2 linked regions of the Homo sapiens genome follow. The protein of the gene in region 2 interacts with the protein of the main gene of each other region in a biochemical or structural test. Each region holds a gene or a part of one and is shown on either strand. Other genes may lie near its edges.

What was found. The genes of interacting proteins can lie anywhere in the genome.
Region 1: the proteins of HIC1 (region 2) and TCF7L2 form a complex in vitro, tested with the Homo sapiens proteins (one study listed by BioGRID).

What each region holds. Positions count from the first base shown.
Region 1 is NC_000010.11:112,946,207-112,953,249, forward strand, and holds the start of TCF7L2 (transcription factor 7-like 2), read left to right. Parts: upstream 1-4,040; 5' UTR 4,041-4,550; coding exon 4,551-4,739; exon of another isoform or gene 4,740-4,801; intron 4,802-5,000; coding exon 5,001-5,067; intron 5,068-5,276; coding exon 5,277-5,401; intron 5,402-5,571; exon of another isoform or gene 5,572-6,136; intron 6,137-7,043. UniProt on the Homo sapiens protein: Participates in the Wnt signaling pathway and modulates MYC expression by binding to its promoter in a sequence-specific manner. Acts as a repressor in the absence of CTNNB1, and as activator in its presence.
Region 2 is NC_000017.11:2,050,133-2,058,116, forward strand, and holds the start of HIC1 (hypermethylated in cancer 1 protein), read left to right. Parts: upstream 1-4,970; 5' UTR 4,971-5,106; intron 5,107-6,177; coding exon of another isoform or gene 6,178-6,214; intron 6,215-6,538; coding exon of another isoform or gene 6,539-6,558; coding exon 6,559-7,984. UniProt on the Homo sapiens protein: Transcriptional repressor. Recognizes and binds to the consensus sequence '5-[CG]NG[CG]GGGCA[CA]CC-3'. May act as a tumor suppressor. Involved in development of head, face, limbs and ventral body wall.

The DNA of each region.
Region 1 (7,043 bases), on a different chromosome or scaffold from region 2:
ACATGTATTCCCCACTTCGGGTAAATCTGACAGACTAGCCTTGTTTTTCTCAAATTCCAGAGCCAAGCTTTCAATATGGTTTGTCTTCTTTGCTGGTGTGCGTGAATCTCTGAGCCATAACTGGGGCGTGTGGTGAAACGATGGAATCACGGACTTTTAAATATTAACAGGCAACTTAAAAAAGCCCATTCCAACCACCTCATCCACCAGGTGAGACAAGACGAAGGGGCCGTGGGTGACACAGCCTGTGGCAGGCCTATTTCTGCAGTCCCCTGTCAGGCACATTCCTGTATTTCAATGGGCACCTAACACTTCACCATATCTCCCACGTGGGGAACCAACACTTAAAAGGTGATTTGTGTAAACAGAAACCTCCTTTTCATGCTCATTGATAGGGATAAACAAGGAAGCACCTCTGGAAGAGGTAACACTACTCACTTAAGTTTTAAGGTATCAGCATGTATCCAAAGAGAAGGATTTAATCAAGGGAGGGCTGAAGGAGAGGAGAAAACAGAAGAGAAGCAGCAGAAGGGCAGTGGATGAAGAGGGCGAGGTCAAAGTCAGAGAGGCCTAGGGACAGCTACTTACAGTTCAGGACCTGGACTGGCGCCAGGAATGGACTCCAAGGGGTGAGGGCCCAGCTTCTCCCTGCCTTCCTCCCAAAATATGCAGAGACCTAACTGGATTCCAAGGGATGAGGGCACAGCTTCTCCCCCCTCCCACCCATTTCCCAACATGCAGAGCCCATGGTGGCAAAATCCCCTGGCTCAGGCTAAAGTCAGAACTGGTCTGGTTTCCTGTGTTTTTCAAATCTCTGCCATTTGGGCAGAACGCTTGGTCCTATAAACCAGGAGTCATCAGTATCCACAGAGAAGTTGCCTCAGCACTTGGACCCAAGTCAACTGTGTTTAAAATTTCACACCAAATCTATAAATTACACATTCACATTGTGGGCCAGCCTACCTTTTTTTTCAAATAGTATTCAAGGTATTTTTCTTTTTTTTTCTTTTCTTTTTTTTTTTTTTTTTGAGACGGAGTCTCGCTCTGTTGGCCAGGCTGGAGTGCAGTGGCGCCATCACGGCTCACTGCAAGCTCCGCCTCCCGGGTTCACGCCATTCTCCTGCCTCAGCCTTCCGAGTAGCTGGGACTACAGGCACCCGCCACCACGCCTGGTTAATTTTTTGTATTTTTAGTAGAGACGGTGTTTCACCGTGTTAGCCAGGATGGTCTCGATCTCCTGACCTCGTGATCCGCCCGCCTTGGCCTCCCAAAGTGCTGGGATTACAGGCATGAGCCACTGCGCCCGGCTATTCAAGGTATTTTTCAATACCTTGCTGCCTGGCTACTGCAGTGCCAATTCTGCCATTCCCCCCCGCTCCTCAATTCAGGCATCACCTGAGGGACTTGCAGAGCATCAGGGATCTGGCCCCTCTGAGATCTTGCTGGTCTACTCAAGCCTTTGTACAGCACCAGGCAACGAAATTAAATGTGGGACATGCACTATCACAGAATAACTTTTTAATTGCTTAATTAAATCAGAGATTTAAGGAAGGAGAGATTCAAAAGAGTTCCCTTTGAATGAGAAAAATAAGGATATGCCAAAATGGATAAAGTTACTAATCATGGGAACAAAGCCCTTAGTATTTACATATGATAAAAATGCAGGCCAGTATAGTAAAATCAGTAAGTACATTCTTTAAAATTTCAATTCAGTATATTCCTGAGATTTTATTATACAGGTAGTACTATAAAGAACATAGAAGACCTCATTATCCAACTTAATTCAGACCAGGGTTTGATTAAAAAAATAAAAAACAAAAAACTACCACACAGGACAAAGAAATTGCCATAAAATTGAGTTCCTATAAATGTGTTCCAGTTTAAGTAACTAAGTCCCTAAAATGAGCCTTAGTAAAGTCTACGCTGCATATAGACAGACTTAGGCACATCAAGTATACAGGTGACAATTAGCAAGTGTATAAAGCTATGGTCATTTCGCTAAATGTGTAAATCTAAAGGCAACCAAGTAAAAGACCTAAAAAAGGAAACTGTTAAGTCCATTTGTACATGGATTTAACAGTGAAGCATTTCATTCTTCATGTTTTCACTTGGTGTCTTGAAATAATCCCCTTTCTGTCTCCACTCTCCCTCTTAGACACTGCACCTGCCTTATTTATTTATGAAGTCTGAAGGTTAGTCCTACCTGCTGAGACTAATTAGCCCTGTGCTTTGTATCCTATGCAATCCTGTCTGATTAAATGTACACATTTGTTTTACTTCTTTTCAGGCTCCTTCTCACTCTACTTCTGATATTCTGATTAATATCAAAGTTGGGAGTTACAGTGATTCTCCTCTGCCTCCCCCCCAACCCATTTTTATTTTGCCTGCATCTTATTCTTTAGTGTGCAAATGTGGTTGTGATTTTTTTCCAGTGCAGGGGAATTCGTTGGCCTTGTCAATCTCGGTATCATTATTTTTAGTAGTCTTTCTGAGACTTTAGCCTATAAAACAGTTTTGCTGAAACCCCAAACTCTCTAAATATTACATGGCAAATTTGCTTTCTTTTGGAAACCTCGGTGCTGATGGGCCAGCTGAAGTGCAGGTGAGCTTTTTCAGGGAAGGGTGGGACAACAGTACATCCTGGACTCTAGACTAATACTACTCCTAAGAGGCAATTTGCTAAATCCTACTGATTTATTTTTTTCTTTTTTCTCTTTTTCATGTTGTAGTGTCCAGTCTACTTCTTACTGGGTATTTGCAAAAATGAATTTTCTTGCTCTATCACCCAGGAACATTGTGTTTTGGGAGCTGGGTCTTTCCTCTTTAACATAATTCCATTCCCCATTTTGTAGCAAATCAGTCTGCTCCTCCTCTAATACCTAAAAGTCAACAAATACCTGCCTCAAGCCCCAGGTTTCCCATCTTCTCCCGAAGGTCTTCTAGCATCGGTTTGGTTAGCAATTTCCTGCCAGAGCCACCTACATCTTGATTATTTTGGTCAGTCTTTCGGGGATTTCATTTCAGACCCCCTTCGAGAAACACTGTAGCCCAACTGATCCCAGGGGTTGGTGAACTTTCAGTTTTATTTTCCCTGACGGTGTTAACGCCCAAACTTTTCACCTCCTAAGTCAAAAAGGACTTTGACTCTAGCTCATTTCCTACTACCTCCAACGTCAGTTAAAAAAAAAAAAAAAAAAGCAAAACACCACTCTACATTTAAAAGAATCATATATTTTTCCTTAAGGATACTTTTAATGTTTCTGACATTTAGCATTTGTTTTTTGCATAAAAAGTCGTTTTGGCATATCCATCCTAGTGGGACTTAACATTTCATGAAATGATTCACTACTAATAAACAAAAAAGGGAGGAGGGAGGCCTCATGGGTTAATAGTTTCTTTCATTGTAGATGACCAGGAACTTTGACCAGCCCCTTCACTTCCCCAAGCTCTCTGAAAGTGGAGGGTTGATCTTTCCTTTTGACCACTTTTGTCGCATCCCGTCTAAGGGTGGCTGATTTCACTGCTGAATTAACCACCAAGCACCCCCCCACCCCCTCCCCCAGCCACCACTTTCTCAAATACTACCCTTCCTTTTCCCCCTCCCTTAAGACTTATTTCTAATATTTCTAAAGTGCACTGTTTTGGGCCTCTCCCCATCCCCGCCCCCCAAGTGGGCTTTCCTTCCGCCTTCCTCGGCTCGGATTCCTGACTTGGTCGCCACCCCCTTCTCCTCCTCTCCCACCCCGCATTGTCTTTCTGAAACCGCCCCCTCCCGGAGCAAGTCCCTGCACCCTCGCCCAGAATCCCGGGCTCGCACACACTCCGCGCAGGCCGCTCCCCCTGCACACTCCTCCCTCCGTCTCCCCCCGGCTTCCCCGCCCCTCTCTTCCTCCTTCTTTCCCTCCTCCCTCTCCCGGCGCCCGAAAGGATCATTGTTAGCCGCCCCCGCCCCGCCCACCCCGGCTGTTTATTTATGCACACGTCACTGGGCCGGCCCCGCCCTCCGGCATCTCATTAAGGCAGTGTGTTCCTCTCGCCCTGTCAATAATCTCCGCTCCCAGACTACTCCGTTCCTCCGGATTTCGATCCCCCTTTTTCTATCTGTCAATCAGCGCCGCCTTTGAACTGAAAAGCTCTCAGTCTAACTTCAACTCACTCAAATCCGAGCGGCACGAGCACCTCCTGTATCTTCGGCTTCCCCCCCCCTTTGCTCTTTATATCTGACTTCTTGTTGTTGTTGGTGTTTTTTTTTTTTTTACCCCCCTTTTTTATTTATTATTTTTTTGCACATTGATCGGATCCTTGGGAACGAGAGAAAAAAGAAACCCAAACTCACGCGTGCAGAAGATCTCCCCCCCCTTCCCCTCCCCTCCTCCCTCTTTTCCCCTCCCCAGGAGAAAAAGACCCCCAAGCAGAAAAAAGTTCACCTTGGACTCGTCTTTTTCTTGCAATATTTTTTGGGGGGGCAAAACTTTTTGGGGGTGATTTTTTTTGGCTTTTCTTCCTCCTTCATTTTTCTTCCAAAATTGCTGCTGGTGGGTGAAAAAAAAATGCCGCAGCTGAACGGCGGTGGAGGGGATGACCTAGGCGCCAACGACGAACTGATTTCCTTCAAAGACGAGGGCGAACAGGAGGAGAAGAGCTCCGAAAACTCCTCGGCAGAGAGGGATTTAGCTGATGTCAAATCGTCTCTAGTCAATGAATCAGAAACGAATCAAAACAGCTCCTCCGATTCCGAGGTAGGAAAAGCCCCTCGGGCTGGTGGGGTTTTTTATCTGTTTCCTGGGCTTGGCAAATGTTGCTGAAAGGGGAGAAATCGGGGCTGGGGGCGGCGGCGGGGCCCGGCGGGCGGCGTGTGCGTACGGTGCCACCATTGCAAAAACTTGTAACCCTGTTTTTTTCTACCCCCCCCTCGACCTCGCCGATTCTTTTTCTCCCCCTTCTCCCCCTTCTGCGTGGCGTTTGCCCCTCGCCCTCCCCACCTCCACCCCTCTGGGAAGGCGGAAAGACGGCCTCCGCCTCGCTCCGAAAGTTTCCGAGACAAATCCCGGGAAAGTTTGGAAGAAGGTGAGTACGCCCCGCGCGCCCCGCAGCCGCCCGGAGCCGCCCCCCGGGCCGGCCGCCCCGCGCGCCCCGGCCCCGCGCCCGGCTCGGCCTGGCCCTGCGCCGGCCCGGTCGGGGCGCCCGGCCCCTCGGGGCACTTTCTAAAAAGTTTCTCCTCACTCTCTCCCGCTCCGCGCGGCCGCCGCTGTCCCCTCGCCGCCCCGCCATGTTAGCGGCCAAGAGGCAAGATGGAGGGCTCTTTAAGGGGCCACCGTATCCCGGCTACCCCTTCATCATGATCCCCGACCTGACGAGCCCCTACCTCCCCAACGGATCGCTCTCGCCCACCGCCCGAACCGTAAGTGCCTCCGCGCCCGGCCCCCGCCCGCTGCCCGCCCGCCCGCGCCGCCCGCCGGGCCCCGCATGCGGCCCCTGCCCTGCCCCCTCCCCGCCTCCCCCTCCCCGCCTCCTCCCCTCCCTCCCTCCCCTCCCCCGCTCGTGGCCCAGGAGGCCCGAAACTCTCCAAACTTTTCTGCCTTTTGTGGACTGGATTTGTTTGCACTTCGCCACGTTCTTGCTTTCAGTTTGCTGCCTCGTGATGTTGGGGAGACCTCTCTGTCCAAGCAGGGCTTTGTTGGTGGGGAGGGGGGGGAATCCGAAGAACTTTCCTTTGCGTTCTGGTTCCCCCTCCCCCTTTGGTGGTGGTGTTTGTTTCTTCACCCTGGGAAGATGACTCTGTGGCTCTTCCTTTGCTCTCTCTCCCTCTCTCTCCTTCTCTTCCTTCCCTCTTCTGTGGCGTCTTGGGCTTTCCCCGGTTAACCCCTTGGCTGCCGCTGCGGGCCACGAGTGACTGACTGTGCTGCGCCCGATGCGCGGGGTAGAGAGTGGGTTTCCTCCAGGCATTGGACTTGAGAACTGGCTAGCGCGCAGAGCCCGGGGCCCTGGAGAGGCTCCTTGGCTTTCTCTTTTGGGCGACTATGTATTTAGCTTTCTAGTGGAGATTGCTGGCTCTCGGCCCTCCTTCCCCCTTCCCCTGGAAGGTCACACTTCCCAGATTGGTCCCACCGCAAACTTGGGGGCTCTGAGGCGTCCTTTTCTTTGGCAACCCGCAGGGCCGCGAGCGCCCTGGGCGCCGTGGCGGGCTCCGCTGCCCGGCGCACTGGCTGCGGGCTCTCCCGGGCCGCGCAGGGCAGCAGGGCTGAGTGGGGCGGGGAGGCCCCTGCGGCCCGGATTCTTGGTTTGTGTGCAGCCGGAATGGACTCCTCCAAGCGGACTTGTGTATTTCTAGGGAATTTTGGCGCCTTGGGATGTATGGCGGGGTCGGCGCTCGCCAGCTTCCGTGTAGGCCCGTCGTGGGCCCCAGGGGGGCCAGAGACCAGGGTGTGCGGGCTCAAGGAGGTGCGGGGGCCGAGGGAGGCTGGGGCGCCTCTCCTTCAAGGGAGTGGGCCGCCGATCGCCGGCCACCCAACTTTGGGGGCCCCAGGGCAGCGCGGGGTGCCGGGCTCGGGGGGCGCTTCCTGCAGGGTCGGTCCCGCGCCCAACCCTGACATTTGTTAATACGGCTCATCCCCTCCCCCACCGGCCTGTGCCCCCTGCCCTCACCCTGAACCCCCTCCTCCTCATCCCTCCCTCCCTCTTCTAAGAAGCCTGGATTACGAATCCCTGGACGCAAGACGCATTTGTGCCCGGCTTCCCGGTATTGTCATTTTACACCTTCTCCAGTTTGGTCCCCTACCCCTTATTTACACACACGACTTTTGTTTTTTCTTTTTCGGTAACTCTAGATAGCAATTTGAAATAATGCACCCACTGTTCAGCAGCCATGGATTCGGTGCTAATGGCCGAGGGCTTGCCGGACGGGAGTCGATCAGATCTACAAGTGTTTTTAAGCATTAAAATATTAACTATCAGGTTTGACTTGCTTTTTTGGGCCCTGGCAAAATGGCAAGGGCATGCTAGACCGGTCATTTTTTTTATGGCTAGGGAAGAGAAATAATTAT
Region 2 (7,984 bases):
GGCGGCCCGATGGCGGCGCCTGCGTTGATCAGCACCGCGGACAGCGGCGGCGCAGGCAGCGGGCCGGGGGCGGGGCCCTGAGGGACGGGGACTGGGGGTCCCCGGGCGCGGCGGCGGCGGCCGGGGCCGCGGTCCTGGGGCGGGGCCAGGCGTCGGTGGCCGTGACTGGAGACTGTTACTGAGGGCGGCCCGGGCAGTAAGCAGTCTAGAGCCAAGGTGCCGGCGCGCTGTCCGGGCGGGGTGCCCCGGTCGCCCCGGCTGCCCCGGCTGGGGGCTCTGCTGCTCCGCCTCCCCTGCGTCTCCCGCCCTGCCCCGCCCGGCGCTCGCGACCAGGCACGCGGCCCCTGACGTCAGAGGGCCGTGACGTCAAAGATGTCCCAGAGGGGGCACTTCCGGCGGGGGCGTGGGGGCGGGGCGGGACCTGGGAGGCCCCGCCCCCCCGGTCCTGAGAGGACAGCTCCGCTCGCAGAGGCGGGAAGCCGTGGGCGCCGCGGGACCCGCTGGACGGGACCTGCCGGGAAGGGGCGCCCGACGCCATGCGGGGCGGGGGTCCCAGGAGGGCCGGGGAAGCGGGGGTGGGCGTCCGTCTCTCGCCTGCACCCCCGCTCAGCCGGCCCGGGCAGCGAGGCTGAGTCACCGCGCCGCAGGGAGGGAGAGGAGGGGGCGCGTCTCCTGGGGCGCCAGCACCTTCGCCTCACTTTCCTGGGAGAATGGCGCAGGAGCCCCAAGAAAGCCGGGGGGGGGTCTCCGAGGTCGGTCCTCCACTCGATGCTCCTCCGAAGTAGCTGCGTGTCCATCGGGCGCCGGCAGGTGCTGCGCGGGCTCGTGTCGTCTCTGGCCCCGGCTCCGCAGCCGCGAGGGGACCCCGGTGCCCCCCGTCCGCCCCCATCCCCACCCCGGAGGGGCCGCCCCACCCGCCGCCTGCCCGTCCCCTCCTCGTCCTCCCGTCCGTGTCCGCACATCTGTCCCTCCGCGGCTGGTCCGTCCCGCTTACCTGGCGGGCCGCGTCGCCACTGCCCGGTCGCCTCCCGCAGCCTGGCCGGCGCGGCGGCTTTTATAGGCGCGCGTAGTACTCGTGCGGCGGCTCATTCATGCGGCCGCGGCTCCTACACACTGACGCGCTGCCGACGTCAGCGGGGAATTTAGGAAATGGGAAAAGGGGCTATTTATAGTGGCGAGGCGGGGGGTGGGGACCGAGGCGACCGGGAGGGGAGGAGGGGGCGCGGAAGCGGCGGCGGGGTAGGGGGAGCCGCGCCCCTGCCCAGCCGACAAGGGGTTAACTTTCCGGAACCGCGGGCCTGGGGCCGGGGAGGCGGCGCGGAGGGGCGCGGCGGGCCCTTCGAGCTTATTCACGCTCTCCTTCCGGAGCCCCGCGGCTCCTGGGGGTCTTCACGTGGCAGCCCCTTCCCCCTCCTCAGTTCCTGGACCTGACGTTTCTGCCGTCACACCCCGCAAGGCCACTGCGGTGTCGCCACCCTCTCGTCCTGCAGGGTGGGCAGGAGAGGAAGCTGGACTCCCGTGGGGGCCTGGGGCGCAGCGAGGGCTGTGGCGTCGGGGGCCGGGAGAAGAAGAGTAGGGGAGCCCAAAGTAGCCCAGGAGTCTTTAGCGGAGGAACCTGGGCCTGGGAGGGAAGGCCCAGCGGGGATTCAGGTACCACCCAGGAGCTGGAGACCCGAGGGACGGCAGAGAAGTTGGGGAAGGTGGGCCAACCTCCCCAGAAATGATGAGCAACGGGATCCTCTATGAGGGAGCTGGGGGAACGCGCCAGAGGTAGGGGTGAGAGGAATGGGCAGCCTCAGCAAGGGAGAGAGGAAAGGCTGTCAGTGCCACGCTCCAGAGCCTGGCATCCAGGACCCACCTTCGGACCATTTGTGGCACGATGGACGCTCCCAGAGCTCACGTTAGGGTAATAGAGAGTGAAGGAGACCAGCAGCTTGGCCAAGAGGGGCCCCCAGGGGATGAGGAGGACGGTTTCCTGGAGAAGTTAATGTTCCCGGAGACCAGAATTGGCAGGGAGAGCCCATGACTTGTGGGGCAGTTCCCCTGGTTGGGAGCGGGGAAATGCATGGTCCTGGCCCAGCCTGGCTCCATCGAGATGGAGGAAGGGTCTAAATGAGAGGAGTGTGTTCAGACGAGGAGCTGGACCAGGATGGGGAGGGCTGTGCAAGGCATGGCCGGAAGAGCGGGGCAGGGAGAGAAAGGTCGAAGAGTGAAGTGCACAGGAGGGCAAGGCGGTCCTCACCCTGCCTGGGCTGGGGCAGGGCTGTGAGACCCTCCCTTACAGAAGCAATGAGGGCTTGAGGAGGGGGTTAGGGGCCTGGGCTGGGGCAGGGCTGTGAGACCCTCCCTTACAGAAGCAATGAGGGCTTGAGGAGGGGGTTAGGGGCCTGGGCTGGGGCAGGGCTGTGAGACCCTCCCTTACAGAAGCAATGAGGGCTTGAGGATGGGGTTAGGGGCCTGGGCTGGGGCAGGGCTGTGAGACCCTCCCTTACAGAAGCAATGAGGGCTTGAGGAGGGGGTTAGGGGCCTGGGCTGGGGCAGGGCTGTGAGACCCTCCCTTACAGAAGCAATGAGGGCTTGAGGAGGGGGTTAGGGGCCTGGGCTGGGGCAGGGCTGTGAGACCCTCCCTTACAGAAGCAATGAGGGCTTGAGGAGGGGGTTAGGGGCCTGGGCTGGGGCAGGGCTGTGAGACCCTCCCTTACAGAAGCAATGAGGGCTTGAGGATGGGGTTAGGGGCCTGGGCTGGGGCAGGGCTGTGAGACCCTCCCTTACAGAAGCAATGAGGGCTTGAGGATGGGGTTAGGGGCCTGGGCTGGGGCAGGGCTGTGAGACCCTCCCTTACAGAAGCAATGAGGGCTTGAGGATGGGGTTAGGGGCCTGGGCTGGGGCAGGGCTGTGAGACCCTCCCTTACAGAAGCAATGAGGGCTTGAGGATGGGGTTAGGGGCAGTAAGTTAACTTGGGGAGCGGATGTGGGGGAACGCTGAAGAATAAAGACTGTGGGCACAGCAGACCCCTGGGGCAGGTTAGCAATGCACAGACTCCACTGCACAAGATACATGGGGCGGAGGGGCTCTTTGGAAGTCGGGGGTGGGGGATCTGACTCTATCAAAAAGAGAAAAGATAAAAGAGATGGGGTCAGAGAGGCCCTGCATAGTCTGGATTTGGCCTACTAGAGCTCCAGTTTTCTTGCCGCTAGCCTTTGTTCCAGGGATTCTGTTATTCACAAATGCCTTCCTGCTCGGTAGAAGAACTCCTATTCATCCGTCAAAGCCCAGCTCTAGGAGCACTTATGAGGAGCCTCTCCACCTCCCCTCAACACTCCGTAACTTCCACCTCAGGCCGCAGCACGTCCCTCGGGCGAGATGTCGGGGTCCGCCTTCCCTAGAGACCGGCAGCTCCGGAGGCCTCCGTTTTCCTCTTTGGGACCTCACTGCTTCTAAAGTGAGGATGCTATGGGGAGACATGGGAGAGGGAGTGGGTAAGATGGATCCAGAACATGGGGCGGACTCAGGCAGCGGCGGGAATCAGGCGGACTCGTTTGGACCGAAGCCTCCGCCAGGCACCGAAGCCGTGAAGTCGCCTGCGCAGCAAAGGGAGCCTCCGGGGGGCGCCCGAGACCTTGGTGTCGCTCGGGGGCCGCTGGTAGCCGCGCCCGCTGCCCCTCGCCCGGTGACTCAGCCGGTACCTCTGGCGGGGCCATGGGGGCCAGAGGACAGCGCGGGGGGCGGCGAGCGCGGTTGCTAAGCTCTCCAAGGCCTCGGAGGGACAGGATCTGGGCGCACCTCACCGGTTGCCATGGTAACGCAGCGCCCCAGCCCCTCGCGCTCCGCGGTGGAGGGAGGCGCAGCCAATCGGAAGCGGCGGAGTTCTCGGGGACCCCCCCCCCCCCCGCTCCACGCCGTGTGTGGGCGGGGGTCAGGAGGTGCGGGGCGGAGGCGGAGCGTGGGCCGCGGAGATCCGGCGTTCGCAGGAGGCTTGGTGCGCGGCGGGGCTGCACGGGGCCACTTCCGGAGTAGTACTGCGAGCAGCGGCGCGACAGTGCGGGGTCCCCTTTCTCCCAGAAGAGACGTCACCCACACAAACCTGACCTTCACGTGGGGCGCGGGACCTTGCGGGGTCCCAGCCGCAGGCGCCCCTGTTGTTTCCTTCGGGCGGGTGGGTTGGAGAAGAAGTCCACGCGGGATTCTTCAAAACGGCGTACAGGGGGATTCTAGGGCCCCATGGTTACTTCTTTGGACCCCCCGGAGGCGCTGTCCAGCCACTTCCAGTCGCCCTGATGACTCGTCGTGGGTTCCTTTAGGAGACCCGAAAGTTCAGGGCGGGCTGTGTGGGTAACACCTCTGCCCAGGTTCCCGGAGGGCCCTACGTGGCTGCCCCTGGAGTATCCCAGAGCGCTAGGGCTGCGGGAAGGGGCGGGTGTGCTTCTGGAAACATGAGCGCCTGTTAGTATCAGTGCCTGGATAGGGCTGGGGACAAATCAGTTTATGCCGCGCACACCGAATCCATGCGCCTGAGTGAGGGTGGGTGTGTTGGGGAGTGCGTCCAAGTGGACAGTGCCGTACAGTAATGTCTACGGGGAGTTCCAGGAGAGCTCGGCTACTCCTGCGCAGGATAACCTCTCCCCCACCACCCGAGTCCCGTGCTCGCGGGCAGGACTTTTCCGAACTGGGGCTGTGTGCCTAGAAATACGTACATGGGAGCGCTCAGCTCAAAGCCCCAGGGTTTCTGGGACTCGCGTGTCCGGGGTCGGGGTCCCAGGTGGGTACAGGTGGGAGGGCGAACCTGCGGGTAGGGTGGGCCCCTCCCCGCGGGCTCAGCATCTGTGCGCCTCCAGCTCAGGTGCGCGGGAGGAAGGCAGCGGCCTGCCGCGCAGAGCCCTGCGCGCCCGCGAGGTGGCGCCATAGCCGCAGCAGCGCCCGCCGGCCCGGGCCGCTCCAGATAAGAGTGTGCGGAAAGCGCGGCGGGGCTGAGACGCGACCAGGACGCGGGGAGGACGGACCAGCAGGACAGACCGACCGGGGGCCCGGCGGGCGGAGGGCAGCGCAGCCACGTCCCCCCTGGATCCGCCGTCAGCCGGGCCCGGGGCTTTCGACATGCCCCCCAGGTGGGTCCTCGAGCCGGGGACCGGGAGGGACGGGGGACCCGGGACAGCCCGGTCCTCGTGCGTCGGCCGCCTCGGGTGCATCTTCTGGCGCGGGTGCCCCATCGCGGCTGGCGGCTGGCGTTCAGGGCTCCGGGTGTCGTCCCTTTCGGACTCAGGACCACCGGGCCGCGGCTCCGCGCCGGGTTCACGGCGGGGTCAGCGGCCCGGGGCCGGCTCTGCCCGCACATGGGCTGGAGAGGCGAGGGGAAGGGAAGGGAAGGGGAGCTGGCGGGCGGGGCTGGCAGGGGCGCTGCCCTGGCACAGCTCGGGGCCTGGCAGCGGCGGGTGGGGCATCGGCTAAGAGCTGCCACCGCCGCGGGGAGGGGAGCCCGGCCCGCCGGGACCGCAGGTAACGGGCCGCGGGGCCCCGCGGGCCAGGAGGGGAACGGGGTCGGGCGGGCGAGCAGCGGGCAGGGGAGCTCAGGGCTCGGCTCCGGGCTCTGCCGCCGGATTTGGGGGCCGCGAGGAAGAGCTGCGAGCCGAGGGCCTGGGGCCGGCGCACTCCTCCCGCCCTGTCTGCAGTTGGAAAACTTTTCCCCAAGTTTGGGGCGGCGGAGTTCCGGGGGAGAAGGGGCCGGGGGAGCCGCGGAGGGAGGCGCCGGGCCCGCGCGTGTAGGGCCCAGGCCGAGGCCGGGACGCGGGTGGGGCGCAGGCCCGGGTCAGGGCCGCAGCCGGCTGTGCGCCGTGCCCGCCCGGGGCGCTGCCCCCTCCCTCCCCTGGGAGCTGCGTGGCTCCCCCCTCCCCCCCACCTGCTTCCTGCCTCAGCCTCCTGCCCCGATATAACGCCCTCCCCGCGCCGGGCCCGGCCTTCGCGCTCTGCCCGCCACGGCAGCCGCTGCCTCCGCTCCCCGCGCGGCCGCCGCCCGGGCCCCGACCGAGGGTTGACAGCCCCCGGCCAGGGCGGCGCCAGGGCGGGCACCGCGCTCCCCTCCTCCGTATCACTTCCCCCAACTGGGGCAACTTCTCCCGAGGCGGGAGGCGCTGGTTCCTCGGCTCCCTTTCTCCCTACTTGGGTAAAGTTCTCCGCCCTGAATGACTTTTCCTGAAGCGGACATTTTACTTAAATCGGGTAACTGTCTCCAAAAGGGTCACTGCGCCTGAACAGTTTTCTTCTCGGAAGCCCCAGCACCCAGCCAGGTGCCCTGGGGCGTGCAGGCCGCCCTGGCCTCCCCTCCACCGGCGGCCGCTCACCTCCTGCTCCTTCTCCTGGTCCGGGCGGGCCGGCCTGGGCTCCCACTCCAGAGGGCAGCCGGTCCTTCGCCGGTGCCCAGGCCGCAGGGCTGATGCCCCCGCTCAGCTGAGGGAAGGGGAAGTGGAGGGGAGAAGTGCCGGGCTGGGGCCAGGCGGCCAGGGCGCCGCACGGCTCTCACCCGGCCGGTGTGTGTCCCCGCAGGAGAGTGTGCTGGGCAGACGATGCTGGACACGATGGAGGCGCCCGGCCACTCCAGGCAGCTGCTGCTGCAGCTCAACAACCAGCGCACCAAGGGCTTCTTGTGCGACGTGATCATCGTGGTGCAGAACGCCCTCTTCCGCGCGCACAAGAACGTGCTGGCGGCCAGCAGCGCCTACCTCAAGTCCCTGGTGGTGCATGACAACCTGCTCAACCTGGACCATGACATGGTGAGCCCGGCCGTGTTCCGCCTGGTGCTGGACTTCATCTACACCGGCCGCCTGGCTGACGGCGCAGAGGCGGCTGCGGCCGCGGCCGTGGCCCCGGGGGCTGAGCCGAGCCTGGGCGCCGTGCTGGCCGCCGCCAGCTACCTGCAGATCCCCGACCTCGTGGCGCTGTGCAAGAAACGCCTCAAGCGCCACGGCAAGTACTGCCACCTGCGGGGCGGCGGCGGCGGCGGCGGCGGCTACGCGCCCTATGGTCGGCCGGGCCGGGGCCTGCGGGCCGCCACGCCGGTCATCCAGGCCTGCTACCCGTCCCCAGTCGGGCCTCCGCCGCCGCCTGCCGCGGAGCCGCCCTCGGGCCCAGAGGCCGCGGTCAACACGCACTGCGCCGAGCTGTACGCGTCGGGACCCGGCCCGGCCGCCGCACTCTGTGCCTCGGAGCGCCGCTGCTCCCCTCTTTGTGGCCTGGACCTGTCCAAGAAGAGCCCGCCGGGCTCCGCGGCGCCAGAGCGGCCGCTGGCTGAGCGCGAGCTGCCCCCGCGCCCGGACAGCCCTCCCAGCGCCGGCCCCGCCGCCTACAAGGAGCCGCCTCTCGCCCTGCCGTCGCTGCCGCCGCTGCCCTTCCAGAAGCTGGAGGAGGCCGCACCGCCTTCCGACCCATTTCGCGGCGGCAGCGGCAGCCCGGGACCCGAGCCCCCCGGCCGCCCCGACGGGCCTAGTCTCCTCTATCGCTGGATGAAGCACGAGCCGGGCCTGGGTAGCTATGGCGACGAGCTGGGCCGGGAGCGCGGCTCCCCCAGCGAGCGCTGCGAAGAGCGTGGTGGGGACGCGGCCGTCTCGCCCGGGGGGCCCCCGCTCGGCCTGGCGCCGCCGCCGCGCTACCCTGGCAGCCTGGACGGGCCCGGCGCGGGCGGCGACGGCGACGACTACAAGAGCAGCAGCGAGGAGACCGGTAGCAGCGAGGACCCCAGCCCGCCTGGCGGCCACCTCGAGGGCTACCCATGCCCGCACCTGGCCTATGGCGAGCCCGAGAGCTTCGGTGACAACCTGTACGTGTGCATTCCGTGCGGCAAGGGCTTCCCCAGCTCTGAGCAGCTGAACGCGCACGTGGAGGCTCACGTGGAGGAGGAGGAAGCGCTGTACGGCAGGGCCGAGGCGGCCGAAGTGGCCGCTGGGGCCGCCGGCCTAGGGCCCCCTTTTGGAGGCGGCGGGGACAAGGTCGCCG